2 separate regions of the Homo sapiens genome follow, and region 1 is linked to region 2. The links come from fine-mapping of genetic effects on gene expression. Tissue or cell type: unexposed skin. Region 2 holds a variant in brackets; the other region holds the start of a gene. All regions are shown on one strand. Distances are from middle to middle.

Region 1 (8,002 bases), 85 kb before region 2:
AAGAAAATAAAAGGACTTTCTTTTTGATGGACTTCACAGAGAAATGAATCAAGAAAGTAGAAAAATTACTTACACTCTTAAGTATATAATTTTAGAAATCAGGTCACAAATATAAAAGCTGTTTTCAATTCTACATACAATGCGCAAAGAGTAATATAAATAGAATTTACTAATAATTAAAAATAACTGGCTCATTAAGAGATACTACACTTTTAGAAGAAATGAATTAAATTTTGTGAAATATTCTGAAGAAATCTAAACCTTAAGCTTACTAAAACAACCATTTTTTTCTAAAAACAAATGTTGCATTACTAATCAAAGACATCGGATTTAGTTTTATACACATAATTATGAAATATTTGGTTGTTTTAAAACATACAAAGTGGGATTATTAAAGCCTGAGACTGCTTTGGGTCACAACCAGATTTTAAATTGCAAATACAAGAACGATATTTTGCAGAGAATTCAAAAAACGCACAAAAACACACATTCCATTAGTATCCGTAGCTGGCTGACTTTGTTACTGAGAGGCACTGAGGTACAACAGTTAAAAGCATGAATCCATGGCTCTGAAGCAGGATGCCTGCATCCAAACCCATACATCTAGCAACAAATCAAAGCGTATATTCTACTATTCTTCATAAATGTTCAAAACATTATTATTTCTTCATTATTACTGTTCTGGGATGCAATAAGCCTATTTTCAATAAATGATATAATGAGTTGAACTGGCTTTTTTTCATTATTAAAAAAAAAACTGACAGTACTAATACCTTTCCTGCCATTATGAAAGATTTTCATAAAGCTTTTAACAAATATCCTTTAACTGAATTTATTTCTTGGATAAGCACAACAACCTGATATTTCCCCTTTTGTTAAAAGATAAGAGACATCTAAATTCAAAGAAGAAGCAAGCATTTACTTTCCAACTATTTTTGATCAACATTAGAACTACTCAGTAATATAATAAATACTTTTGGTATTATTCTCTAATTCCTTTACACAGACAGCTTCATCATATCCAGTGTCACACGCTATTATGATTTTGAGAGCACACTTAATAGTTAAAATGAGATCCCCATTGTCTGAAACATTTTTATTGCTTATAATCACAGATGATGTAATTAGAATCAATTATTGCTTTATTAGATCTCCAGGTGACTAATGAGTATCTTTCTGGTCGGTTTATAACTTAAGAACATTGAATGCAATTTTGCTGTTTCTTCAATAAGAGATGCTAACACTCAAAAGAGGACTGTAAATCACTAAGACTTCTAAGTGAATTAACTATGTACTATTAACTATTTCATCATATCACCAGCGTAGTGGGGTATCTCTCCGTCCCAATTTGAGCGCCCTTTCATTACGCTAAGGTAACTACAGAAAAACACAGAAAGCCCTCATTTTGCATAGTTCCAATATGCACATTTTAGTTACTATGGTTAAGTAATACCACTCCCTGCAGAAGAGCACAGGTCAAATTTTAGTTAGCATGGCATAATACCTCAATAACTACGTAAAGTATAAACTTTTCTAACTCTTTAGTCCACAAATCACTACATAAATAATTATGTAATTAACAGATGCACACTGTCATCAGTAACCAGCCACATCATTTCTTTCAAAGTATGTTGATGGTTGGTCACTGTGCATCTGTTATGCAGCTCATGCAGAGATAGCAAAGCATGTAGTTTTGTACCTCCTTGTCTCCCAATGATAAAGTATGTGACATTTAGAAAAAGAGATAATAAAAAGAGGAAACTGGCCAACAAAGACGAAATACAGCAAAGAAATGAAAAGTAATAATGCTGAAATTTCAAATAGAAATGCTGAATTTCAAATAGAAAGTAAAGAATTATAGAAGAAACAGATGACCAAGGGAATGCTGACACTATCGCTCTAGATACACAGAGAACTCAGTGAAGGCAAACTTATTGACATAAATGAGGAAAGCGGTTGTGACGAAAATTTTCCAGAGGACGTGAGGCTGGCAAAAAATATTCATATTAAAGGAAATCTCAGAGATACTTCACAACATGGAAAATACAGACAAAATGCTTCATAAAATTAACATATGGCATATAGAATTTATTCAATAACAAATTAAAAATTTCTTACCTTGGTAACTTTTTATACAAGAATCGCTTTAGGTCCTGAAAGAGAGCATTAAAAAATAATGTTGTAATAATAGGCCTTCCACTGTTTTCTAGATCCTGTCCTATCCAAATTTTAAGGAACTTCAGTTATCATTCATAACCTTTCTTGCTGTGTTTTATCTTTCTCTGTCTGATTTGGATGTTTACTAGTCACGCAACTTGGAGTAAGTTAACCAACCTTTTTTCGCTAAGCTTATTTCATTATTTGTTGAATAGGGCTAATATAGAACCTACATCATAAAAGTGTTGTTAAAAGTTTATTGAGAAGATGCATGGATTAGCATACCTAGAAATGGGAAACACATTTTAGCCATAAAATTACATCATAATTTTCATACTAGTGTTTTACATCCTGTTGCTATTGTGTTCACTTGAGAAGACGTTATAAACACCTTTCCATGTTCAAAGATAGACTTTCCACCATCATCTTAATGGTCTTGGGTAAGGTGATATGACCTCTGTAAGACTGTTGTCTCACGTGACTATCACATTATAAAAATATGCCTTCCATTGTTTCATTATTTGTTGAACTCACCTACTCAACAAATAATGAAACAGTGTAAGGCATATTATTATAACGTAATTTTTAAAATATTTTGTTTAAGGACCTAAAATAAATTCTATATGACTATGTGAGGCAACATTTTTTTTTTTTTTTGAGACGGAGTTTCGCTCTTGTTGTCCAGGCTGGAGTGCAATGGCGCGATCTCGGCTCACTGCGACCTCTGCCTCCCAGGTTCAAACGATTCTCCTGCCTCAACCTCCCGAGTAGCTGGGATTACAAGCACCTGCCACCATGCCCAGCTAATTTTTTGTATTTTTAGAAAAGACAACGTTTTACCATGTTGGCCAGGCTGGTCTCGAACTCCTGACCTCAGGTGATCCACCCGCCTTGGCCTCCCAAAGTGCTGGGATTACAGACGTGAGCCACCGCGCCCAGCCCAGTGTTACAGAATATAAAATAAATGACAATGTGTGTCAAGTGTTTAACACGAAACACAGTTAAGACTAAAGAAGTAGAAGACTATTTTATTTTTCTAAGCTGGGGCTCACTGCAACTTCCAACTTCTGGGCTCAAGCAATCGTCTCGCCTCACTTCCAGCATAGCTGTGACTACAGAGGTATCAATGCGCCTGGCTGATTTTTAAATTTCTTTTTGTAGAACGGGGTCTTGCTATGTTGCCCAGGCTGATCTTGAACTCCCGGCCTCAAGTGATCCTTCCATCTCGGCCTCCCAAAGTGCTGAGATTACAGACTAAGCAACCGCATTGGCCAGAAGACTATCTTATTTTGTCTCATTACACTCTCTTATCCCAGGAATTTCACTGACAATTTAGGTATCAATTTTGACCTCACATGGATTAATCAGGTATCTCTTGTTTTGAGCATCCAGCACTTACTATTCTCCAAACCCGACTGATCATTTTATCCTCCTACACACACACACACACACGTTACCATGTTTCTAAAGAGGCATGGGTTAGAAATCATCGTAAATTGCTACAATAAACCAAATGAGATATTGTTATCACTTACTGGAAAAAAGTATTGTGGGTACATGTCCTACTGACCAAATTCTGACAGGAAAAGCAGCAAACCATCATTCAGAATTTCAAATGGTAAATATACAGAGCCTCTCTTATGCCCCAGCTGGACTGGGGAGTAGGGAGAACCTAATTTTCTCAGTCTCAAGCACCTTAGTGTCCTACACCCCCATTCGAGGCAGAAACTCAGGATCCTGCAAATTCATTCATATTAGTCTCCCACTTCAGATATCAGAGAAAATAATTAACTGGGATGGGTGGGGCTGGGAGGATCAAAACAAATTTCTGTTTGGGAAGTTCTACCTCTCCCCGCTCAGTATGCCCCTCAAAATTCCCCACTCTCCCCTTCCTCTTATGTAGGGGTGTCACTCACATCCGCCATGATGAACCCCCTTCTCTCGCAGGATCAATCTCCACGCCTGGAAGAGAAACTCCCGGTGACTCTTCCCTCTTTGGCTTCCTCGTCCTCCCCACCCACAACTTAATACGCGAGATCAGCCCTGGTCAGAACCAGGTAAAACCCCCGCGGTTCTAGGGCTTGGCCCAGCGAGCCCAGTGGGAGTCGGAGTGCCCCAGCACCCCCACAGGTACTCAGCTGGCACACCTTACCTCAGCCCACCCCATCCCTGCCCCTCCACCCCAAAGAGCTAGGCCCAAAGAAAAGAAGAGAGGGTCCTCTCCTTCTGTTTAATCTCACCACCCGCGCCACCTGCGGGACTAGGCCTCAAAACCAGGCAAAGTAGCGCCAGTTACCTGGGGTTTCTGGGCTGCCTGGTTCTCTCCGCTGTCACTTCAGGGACAGCTTTAAAGACAGGTTCCTCCTCAAGCCACCGTCACATGATTCATGACCTCGTCTGCGCTCCAGGAAGCACTTTCTAAGCCGCCGTCGCCCTACGATACGGGATTTCCGGAGGGGCCCGGCGGAAGCTGCGAGGGCGCGTCCGGCGGCCGCGCCCCTCCCCTCCCCCCCGCCCCGCACGCGCCCCGCCCCTCCCCCGCCCACCGCGGGCCGCGTCTTGCGCCTGCGCCTTGTGTCACGGGCCGAAGGAAGTCAGCTGTGGGGTAGATTTGTACGAGATCGCTGGACCCTAAGGAACCCAGAAAATGCAAGCAAGGTTATGTGTTACAAGACATTCTTGTGCAGAGAGGGTGTATAAATGTCATTAGTTTTGCAGGGTCTGTTATCTTAAAACCTTTTCTTGTAGATGAAGAAATTTGAGGGGATGGTGTGATGAGCTGAAGAGCAAGCACCAGATTGCCTGTGATTGGAAGTACCAGGTCCACAGGTTTCTGACCTGTTTCCTAGGCTCTTGTGACTTCCCCATGGGTGCTCTTTACTGAAGGCCTTACCTAGATTGAATGGGGAGGAGCCATGGGTTTTCTGGAGCACTTCAAGCGTCTACTTTTAACATGCAGACACTGATTACGGGCACCTTCTATGTTCCCTTTTACATCAGAATTTTTAAAAATTAGTAAGGTCTCATGTAATAAATAATAATTGAAAAAAATAAAAGGCTTTCCGGGTGCGGTGGCTGACGCCTGTAGTCGCAGCACTTTGGGAGTCCGAGGCGGGACGATCCTTTGAGCCCAGGAGTTCCACAGCAGCCTGGCAAGATAGGACCCCATCTCTACAAATAATAATAATAATTAAGAATTATCCGAACGTGGCGTGCACCAGGTACTCGGGAGGCTGAGGCAGGAGGATCCCTTGAGCCCAGGGTTTGAGGCTGCATCGAGTGGTGATCGCCCCACTGAACTCCAGCTTGTGTGACAGAGCGAGACCCTCAAAAGAAAAGCTTCTTTAGAAATCGCATCCTCTTTCAGCTACCACACTGTTTTTCCTCTACTCCCTTTCATAGCCAAATTTTCAGAAAACTTTAGCCTGGTTTTCAATTGCTGCTTCCATATGTCACAAATCTAATCAGAGTTCTGTTGATTCTACCTCCTATCTTTGAAAACTATTCACCTATCTATATTCCTACCCTACTCCAAGCCATGATCATCTCTCTTTTGACAACAACCTCCTATTCTTCTTACATTCTCTTTTGCCCTCCAGTCTCCACACAGCAACAAAAATGATGTTCTAAAGACCCAAATCACATCATTTAACTCCTTCCTTGAAAATCAAGTTTATTGACTTAGGATAAAGTTCAATATCAGCATCATGGTTTATATATCATTCTTATGGGGATCTGGCCCCTATCTTAATTCTCTCACCTACCCTGGATTCCTTATGCTATGATCATACAAGTTTGTTTTCACTTCCATAAAGATTTTTATCACTTTACCAACTTAGCACGTTCTGCCTGAGATATTTCTCTAGCATACCTTAATCCTACTAATCTCATCTTTTGCATTTTGGCTTAAACTCACTCTCAGAGAAGCCTTCCCTGACCCTCACTGAATAGTTTAGGTCTTCTAGATAAATGCTTTCATTGTACCCTGTAATTTTCTTTGTAGAATTTATCATAATTATAATTATTTACTTGATATTTATTTTCTTTGCTAGATGTAAACTCTTTAAGGTTTTTGTCTTTCTTATTCAGTGATTAATTCCCAGCACCCAGCTCACTGCCTGGGATATAGCAAGCATTGACATACTTGTTGAATAGTTGAATGAATGAAAGAGTGGCCATATTGAGTATAAAACATGATAAAAACAAACATTTTACAGTGAGAACAGACCTTTTTATTAATATATTGAGATAAACTACAGAGACTGAAAGACAAAAATTCATATTTCATTCAGAACATTCATTAAAAATCAAATGCATTTGAGTTCTCACAGAAAATTTTATGTAAGTCTGATATAACATTAAATATTTTACAAATCAGACATTTCATTTTGAAATCTAATTTTTAATCCTGAATGCATTATAGACAAAGTAAGCTCTCCTTTACCAATTTCATTTAACTTATACAAGGCTTCCATTATAATTCCATCAAACCTTAAAAATTACCTGCAGCTTTTAAAAACACATAAAGTAAATGGAAAGAAAGTCTTATGTAGCAATCCAAAAACTAAAACTAGAAATTGGCAAGAAGCATTTCTTAATACAGATAAACTGCAAAATATCATTTATGTGTGTTTCTTCTCATTGGTTTAATCATCCTATTAAAAATAATTTTTTGAAAGTAATAATTACAATACTCCAATGTCACTGAAAATCTCTATGATTTTAATGGTGTCCTTAAATGGCAAAGTAGAATATCAGACTGAAATGTACAGAGTGTTGTGCTGAAGTGAATGAGACTTGCCATGCCAGGTGTCATCTGCTATGCAGTTACAAGACATCTTGGCAACTAGTCATCCCAGTTTTTACTAACTTACTAAACAAGGACATTTCAAGAAATACTTCTTACCCCTATGTATTTCCAGATGGCTGGATATAGAAAGATATAATTATGTTTGAAGCATGGGCCTTATAATAGGAATCTCTCCATTAAAATATGAAAAAGAGCAACAAATAATTCACACCAATGAAATTGTGTTGACTGATTTTCAAAGTCAGACATAAAAATATCCACTGCTAATGGAAGCCCTGCTCTGTGCAAACATAGTGTGGTATATATTAAACAATCACACATTTGAGGTAATTAGCTGGGAAAAAAAAAAAAAAATATATATATATATATATACACCTATACATAGACACATCCACAGAATATTCACAAATCTATTGGCCCCAACACCAGCAGATAGTCATATTAAATGAAAAATATCACATACCAACAGGAAAAAGTTACACATAGGGAATATACAAAAAATATGGTGCTATAATCCTTAATATAAGGAGTATGTTTTGAATTAATGTTTTGAGGAAAAGTGTTTCCATTTATATGAAAGTATCTATTTAATAGTAATAAAACCAAAAAGGAAGCTGAATTCTAGGACTGTTTTACCTGCCAAATAATTGAAGGGATGAGCAAGAATTCCTTGAAAAGCCTCATTCTATCCTTTTTCTTTGTAACTAAAAATTAGAATTTAAAATGTTGGAAATTATTGCCAGACAAGTTTCTTTTCATTGGTTTATAGGGAATTTTATGGATTTTAACTAGGCAATGGTCCAATGTGGTCAACAGACATGGTTTTTCAGCTGTTGAATGAAAATTAAAATAAAGATTTATTGTTGATTTTCATTAGTTTTTCTGTTCAGATAAGAAAAAAGATTATGAATTCCCTTTCAGTTTGCTTCACTCATTATGAAGATGGATAGTAATAGGATAGTACTGAACCCAAGCTTCACATGGGGAAGCTCAAGAAATGTACAAATTCTCTTCTTAACCATTTGGTCCTCTGAT
Region 2 (8,002 bases):
GATGGAAATGAATAGCACTAAATGCCCACATAAAAAAGTTAGAAAGATTTCAAATTAACAAACTACATTACAACTAAAAGAACTAGAGAAGCAACAGCACACCAACCCTAAAGCTAGTGGGAGACAAGAAATAACCAAAATCACAGCTGAACTGGAGGAGACTGAGACACAAAAAGCCATTCAAAAGATCAATGAACCCAGGGGTTGTTTCTATGAAAAAATTAATAAGATAAATATATTGCTAGCCAGGCTAATAAAGAAGAAAACAGAAGATCCAAATAAACACAATTAGAAATGACAAAGGGGATATTACCACTGACACCACCAAAATGCAAATGACCATCAGAGACTACCATGTATACCTCTATACACACAAACTAGAAAACCTAGAAGAAATGAATAAATTCATGGACACATATACCCTCCTAAGACTGAACTGGGAAGAAATTGATTCCCTAAATAGACCAATAATGAGCTCTGAAATTAAATCAGTAATAAATAGCCTAACAACCAAGAAAACCCCAAGACCAGATGGAGTCACATTCAAACTCTACCAGATATACAAAGAAGAGCTGGTACCATTCCTACTGAAATGATTCGAAAAAATTGAGGAGGATAAACTCCTCCCCAACTCATTCTGTGAGACCAGTATCATCCTGATACCAAAACCTGGCGGAGATACAATAACAACAACAAGGCCTCAGGCCAATATTCTCAATGAAAATTGATGCAAAAATCCTCAAAAAAATACTAACAAACTGAATCCTGCAGCTTATTAAAAAGCTAATCCACCACAATCAAGTAGGCTTTATCCCTGGGATGCAAGGTTGGTTTGACATATGGACATCAATAAACATGATTCATCACATAAACAGAACTAAAGGCAAAACCACATGATCACCTCTATAGATGCAGAAAATGCTTTCAATAAAATTTAACACCCTTCATGTTAAAAACTCTCAATAAACTAGGCATTGAAGGAATACACCTCAAAATAATAAGAGCCATCTATGACAAACCCACAGCCAACATCATACTGAATGGGCAAAAGCTGGAAGCATTCCCCTTGAAAACTGGCACAAGACAAGGATGTTCTCTCTCACCACACCTATTCAATGCAGTATTGGAAGTTCTGGCCAGGGCAATCAGGCAAGAGCAAGAAATAAAGGGCATCCAAATAGGAAGAGAGGAAGTCAATCTATCCCTGTTTGCAGATGGCATAATCCTACATCTAGAAAATCCCATAGTCTCCTCCCCAAACCTTCTTCAGCTGATAAACAACATCAGCAAATTTTCAGGATACAAAATCAACACACAAAAATCACTAGCATTCCTATACATCAAAACAACCAAGCTGAGAGCCAAGTCCCATTCCCAGTTGCCACAAAAAGAATAAAATACCTAGGAATACAGCTCACCAGGGAGGTGAAAGATATCTAAAATGAAAGCTACAAAACACTACTCAAAGAAATCAGAGATGACACAAAAAATGGAAAAAACATTCCATGCTCATGGATAGTAAGAATCAATATCTTTAAAATGGCCATGCTGCCCAAAGCAATTTACAGATTCAACGCTATTCCTATCAAACTACCAATGAAATTCTTCACGGAAATAGAAAAAACAATTTTAAAATTCATGTGGAAGCCAGGTGCGGTGGCTCACGCCTGTAATCCCAGCACTTTGGAAGGCTGAGGAGGGTGGATCACGAGGTCAAGAGATCAAGACCATCATGGCCAACATGGTGAAACCCCGTCTCCACTAAAAATACAAAAATTAGCTGGGTCTGGTGGCACATGCCTGTAGTCCCAGCTACTCGGGGTTGGGGGTGGGGGTGGGTGCTGAGGCAGGAGAATCGCTTGAACCCAGGAGGCAGAGGTTGCAGTGAGCAGAGATCATTCCACTGGACTCCAGCCTGGTGACAGAGCAAGACTCCATCTCAAAAAAAAAATAATAATAATAATATGGAACCAAAAAAAGAGCTTGAATAACCAAGGCAATTCTAAGCAAAAATAACAAAGCAGGAGACATCACACTAATCGAATTCAAACTATACTATAGGGCTACAGTAACCAGAACACCATGGTACTGGTACGAAAGCAGATGCATAGACCAAGGGAACAGAATCAAGAGCCCAGAAATAAAGCAGCACACCTACAACCATCTGATATTCGACAAGGCTGACAAAAGTAAGCAATAAGGAAAGTACTCCCTATTCAACAAATGGTGTTGGGATAACTGGGTAGCCATATGCAGAAGACTGAAAGTGGGACCCTTTCTTACACCACACGCAAAATCAAATCACAATGGATTCAGAACTTATATGTAAAACCCAAAACTATAACAATCCTGGAAAATAGCCCAGGCAATACCATTCTGGACATAGGAACTGGCAAATATTTCATGACGAAGATGCCAAAAACAATGACAGCAAAAACAAAAATTGACAAATAGGATCTGATTAAAGAGCTTCTGCACAACAAAATAAATTATCAACAGAGCAAACAGACAGCTTACAGAATGGGAGAACATATTTGCAAACTATGCATCTGACAAGTTCTAATAACCAGTATTTACAAGGAACTTAAACAAATTTACAACAAAAAACCAAACAACCCCTTTAAAAAGTAGGCAAAAGACATAAACAGATGCTTTTCAAAAGAAGACATATATAGGGCCAACAAGCATGTGAAATAAAAGCTCAATATCACTGATCATTAGAGAAATGCAAATCAAAATCACAATGAGATACCATCTCACACCAGTCAGAATGGCTATTATTAAATAGTCATTTAAAAAAATAACAGATGCTGGCAAGGTTGTGGAGAGAAGGGAACACTTATACACTGTTACTGGGAGTGTAAGTTAGTTCAACCATTGTGGAAAGCAGTGTGGCAATTCCTCAAAGAGCTAGAAACAGAACTACTATTTGACCCAGAAATTCTGTTACTGAGTATATACCCAAAGGAATATAAATTGTTCTATCATAAAGGCACATGCACATGTATGTTCATCGCAGCACTGTTCATGATAGTAAAGACATGGAATCAACCTAAATGCACATCAATGGTAGACTGGATAAAGAAAATGTAGTACATATACACCACGGAATACCATGCAGCTATGAAAAATAATGAGATCATGTCCTTTGGAAGCAGATGGACAGAGCTGGAGGCCATTATCCTTACCAAACTATTGCAGGAAGAGAAAACCAAAGACCACATGTTCTTACTTATAAGTAGGAGCTAAATGAGACACAAAGAGAGGAACAACACATTCTGGGGCGTTCCTGAGGGTGGAGGGTGGGAGGAGGGAAAGGATCAGAAAAAATAACTATTGGCTACTAGGCTTTGTACCTGGATGGCCAAATAATCTGTACAACAAACACCCATGACATGAGATTACCAATGGAACAAACCTGCACATGTACCCCTGAGCTTCAAATAAAAGTTCAGAAACAGACAAAACCAAACAAAAACCAAATTAGCCCTAGCATTTGTGGAGGCATACATACTATATTCCTCAATATTTACATGTTTAAAGTTAACAAATTATTGAGTAAAATGTTTTATCATCCTACATTGACAAAATTATATTTATAACATTTTTAAATGTGAAGAACTATGTTACATTTAAATAGCTGCAAGTTAGTAAATGTAAAAGATGATTTATTTTAATTATGCTTGGCATGTCTGGCCTTCTAGTGATAGGCCAGTGATGTTTGAATGGTATAAAGCAAAGATATATATAATGAATACATTATTATATATTTATTTCATAAGCATTTTTTTCTTCATTTTAGAAAAATTGCTAATTATGTTATAATCAATATTTTCATTTAATTTGTATTGACAGCATGCTAAATGAGAGGACATTGCTTGATTTATTAAAACTTTTTGATAGATTTTAAAATTAATTTTAATTGGCCAAACTATCACTCTGC[T/C]GAAACAATAACATCTGGAATTTTTAATGAAATTCTTAAAGCAATACTTGATTTAGTAATGGACCATGAATTTTACATATCATGTTTGAGCATTGGTTTGCATATGATAAACTAATATTACCCCATGAGATTTTACAAAACATTTAAAATTTCATTGCTATCACTTATGTTGTAATTTATAGTCTTTTAAGTAAGATCTAATCTGTATACTAATGTAAAAAACTGATAGCACAGTCAACTGATGCTATATCTAGATTTATATATTCAGTTATGTAATATTGAAAATTGTTCCTCAGCCACCATGTACAACTTGGTGATTATCATGCTAATTTATGAGTATTTTCAGAACCACAAATGAAACACACACACAAAAACAGAAATGTTCACTTTAGGCACTACTGGGATTTTGGGGGGCGTTTTGTTGTTGTTGTTATGCAAGAAACTATTACATTGCCCTTGTTTCAGAATTGCCTTGTAGATATGTGATGCTGTCAACAAATAGTTCTATTTCTAAACAAAGAAGTATATTTTTAGGTCGTAAGAAACAAAGCCAAATCTCTAGTTTGTTAGATTCTAATGATAGAAGGAAAAGGCAGATACCTTAAAAGATCACAGATATTTGAAATCATAAATTGAACACACATACCTGCCTACCAATAAGATATAAAGATACCATAAATTGTTGATGTTAATTTGTAATTAAATAACATTTTTTAGAAAAACTTTACTTAAAATAGTCTTAAATGTACATAATAATGCCAAATTTCTATGACTCAAAAATATTTACAACCGCCATTTTCAATACAAGTGAAACTCATGAATCATTATAAGAGCAAAATATTGATTTAGCAAGGAGTAGTCTGTTGAATATTAAGAAATAATTAATATTCAGGAAGTTTTTATTGACAACTCTGTGGCAGAATCTCAATATAAACAAGATATAGATGATTTTAAATCAACCTCCCCCACACATATATATACATGCAAAGCATGGCAATGTATTTTATTGCTAACTTGTGAGATCTATTTTGTTACTTCATTGATACCCATTCATATACTTACTTTTGGATTTTTTTTAATTAGAAGTTAGGATGAAGGAATTAATTGAGTTCTAAAAATCCCTAACTCTCTACCTTGTTTAACATACTTAGACTTAAACAGTGAAACTCAATAGCCTTCTGGGCTTTTGATGAACAAAGAGCTATCAGTTTATAGAGCAAAAATAGAACCTGTCCCTGAACAACCAATTATATTCAGTAACTTAATGACTATTTGAGTACATATCATATGCCAGCCACTGTTCTACACATTGATTTACAACAATGAACAAAAGCAAAGCATCCTACCTTCAAGGAGCTTACATTCTAGAAATGGAATGGAGTGGGGGTGGGGGTGTAGAGAGCAAATATATCAGTAAATTATGTGGAATGCATGAGGATAAATACTATGAGGAAAATAAATTAGGATAAAGGAATGGGAGTGCTGGGCAGAGGTTGCAGTTTTAAAGGGATTGTCAGAGAAGAACTTACTGAGAAAATGACATGAGTCATAAAAGAGGTTATTTTTAAAAACTTTTTTTAAATTTTGAAATACTGTCAAATGTACAGAAAAATTACAAGTACAATGCAAAGAATGTTATTTTCCTAAATCATTAGACAGTAAGTGGCTGACTCATCACCCTCAAATACTTTGAGGTATATTCTTTACAAACAAAGACATTCTTCCTACATAAACCATAGTATAACCACTATAATAAAGAGATTATCATTTCTACATTACAAGCATCAAATCCATATCAAGTTCACAGACCCCATTTACATTTCTCCATTTGTCCCAATAATGTCCTTTATTGCAAAAGGATCTATTTCAGAATTGTGTGTTGTATTTGTCTTTTTTTGTCTCTTCAATTTGGAATTATTCCTCAGCCTTTCTTTGAATTTCATGACCTTCACCATTTAAAACAAAATTACAGGACACTTATTTTGTAAAATGTTTTTAAATAGGATTTGTCTGATGTTTCTTTATGGTTATATTCAGATTTTGCATCTATGGCAGGAATATCACAGAATTTCATTCTATCAGGTCGCTAATAATTTAAATTTGTCCCACTATTGAGGCTATTAACTTGAATCACTTAAGGTATAGTCTGCCAGCTTTCTCCATTGTGAATTATTCTTTTTTTTTTTTTTTGTAATTTCTAAGTATTTTGTGGAGAGATACTTTGAAACTTTGCTCCACACTCTATTTCTCATCAAATTTTCTATGTATTCATTTATTTATATAAATTGAAGCCATGCATAATAAATTTTTACTACTGTTACTACCAGGCTTAAGGGCCCCAGATTTGACCAGTAGGAGCTCTTTCAAGCTGATGCCCATGTGCTTTACATGTCCCTATTTTTCTAAGGCACTTCCTTGCTTTTGAAGACAAGATATTTCAGGCCCATCTAGTACTTCGTCAAGCCCATCCCTGAAATCAGTCACTTCTTCAAGGAAGACTTGGCTCCTTTTAGTGGACACTGATTTTTAAGCCATGATCTGGGTGCTTGGTGTGCTGATTCCTACCGCAGGTGGGGTGTGTGGATGGGGTGGTCAGTGCTCCAAGGCCCTGTCAGTGGTTAGATGTAGGAAGTATATGTATGTGGACACATACATATGTGCACACACATACGTGTAAATACACATGTACATATTTAAAACTGCATTAATTTCTACATCTATCTCTAAATATTGAAATCCATGGCCAGGTGTGGTGGCTCACACCTGTAATCCCAGCACTTTGGGAGGCCGAGGCGGGGAGATCACAAGGTCAGGAGATCGAGACCATCCTAGCTAACATGGTGAAACCCTGTCTCGACTAAAAATACAAAAAATTAGCCAGGTGTGGTGGAGGGCGCCTGTAGTCCTAGCTACTTGGGAGGCTGAGGCAGGAGAATGGCATGAACCTGGGAGGTGGAGCTCGCAGTGAGCCGAGATCGTGCCACTGCACTCCAGCCTGGGCGACAGAGCGAGACTCTGTCTCAAAAAGAAAAAAATAGAAATCCATGAGTTACATTGGCACCTTCAATTCCAATCCAACACCAGAGAATCCAACCTAGTTTTCTCCTTTTTGTGTTTATTTTATCAATCTGCTGCTCTGCCTCTCCCAAGTAGAAGCCCCCCACCTCCCCTCGCCCTCCTGAGACAGGGTTACCTCCTTCCCACCAAATGTGCATCTTCCTTGGTCAGGCTTATATACCACATCAGGCTACTTTCCTTGCATGGATGACTTCTTTATCCTCCTTGAACTCTGACACCCCAAACGGGGTCTTCTTCCTATATGGACTCCCCCTTAATCCACTCCAGCTTTGAAACCCATAAGTTGCCCCCATGCATGGATACCCTCCTCAGGCTCTGATTCACTGCAGGACTGCCTCCCCAGGTAGATGCCCTCCTCACTCTCTTCGGGCCCTGATATCCCATACCACATATCTCCTTTGTGTAAGGACCTTCCTTACCCTGCATAAGCTTTCACATCCTGAGCCAAGTCTCTCCCCTCTCCATTGCACCCATTTGAAAGCCCTCCTCATGTGACTCTGGGTCTGACACGTGATGCCAGGTTACTGTCACTCAAGTGTGTCATCCTCACTCTTTTGGGCTCCAAGTCCCCATGCCAGGCTCCCTCTGTGTGGGGGCCTTTCTCACACCACTTGGGAGCTGACATCTCATTCTAGCTCCCTTTTCCTGTGTGGATGCCCTCCTCACCCTTCTCCCATTGACACCACCTGCCAATGTGGTTGCCTTTCTCATTCTTCCTGGGTTTGACACCTCATGCAAGTCAGTCCCTTTGTTGATTCCTGTCTGGCTCTGCTCCACCTAATGTTTTTAAGACTGAATTGCTCAAAAAAAGAAAGGGAAATGGAGGGAAAGGGCAAGTGAAGGGGAGGGGATGGGAAAGAGAAAGCTGAGTTTTATTATATTTTAATAAAAATAATACATGTATGTCACAGCACTATGCCAGTCTGGAATCAGCCTTCAATTTGAACCAGACTCCAACTTTTGTTTCTAAGCCTCTGAGAA

Alleles and levels. Positions count from the first base shown, and alleles are read on the strand shown. Sizes are in standard deviations (SD) of each study's normalised expression.
In carriers of allele T in region 2, the expression in unexposed skin of the gene that starts at base 4,546 in region 1 tends to be lower than with C alone (small effect, 0.33 SD a copy in GTEx).

Evidence for each region. PIP is the estimated chance that this variant, and not a neighbour inherited with it, causes the effect.
Region 1: it holds the start of LAMTOR3, and the variant in region 2 is fine-mapped to the expression of LAMTOR3 in unexposed skin (GTEx, PIP above 0.99).

Annotation. Positions count from the first base shown.
Region 1 is chr4:99,889,882-99,897,883 of GRCh38, forward strand. LAMTOR3 (late endosomal/lysosomal adaptor, MAPK and MTOR activator 3) reads right to left here and starts at 4,546. Exons shown (of 7, transcript NM_021970.4): 1 at 4,454-4,546; 2 at 4,074-4,119; 3 at 2,119-2,153. The coding sequence starts at 4,082. It overlaps DNAJB14 (DnaJ heat shock protein family (Hsp40) member B14), which reads right to left. Exons shown (of 8, transcript NM_001031723.4): 8 at 6,367-8,002. RefSeq lists a silencer at 4,645-4,734.
Region 2 is chr4:99,974,537-99,982,538 of GRCh38, forward strand. The region is part of intron 1 of H2AZ1-DT (H2AZ1 divergent transcript); the gene reads left to right. Among named protein-coding and RNA genes, the nearest start is that of H2AZ1-DT, 28 kb to the left of the region's middle. The variant T/C (reference allele first, on the strand shown) is at 3,944.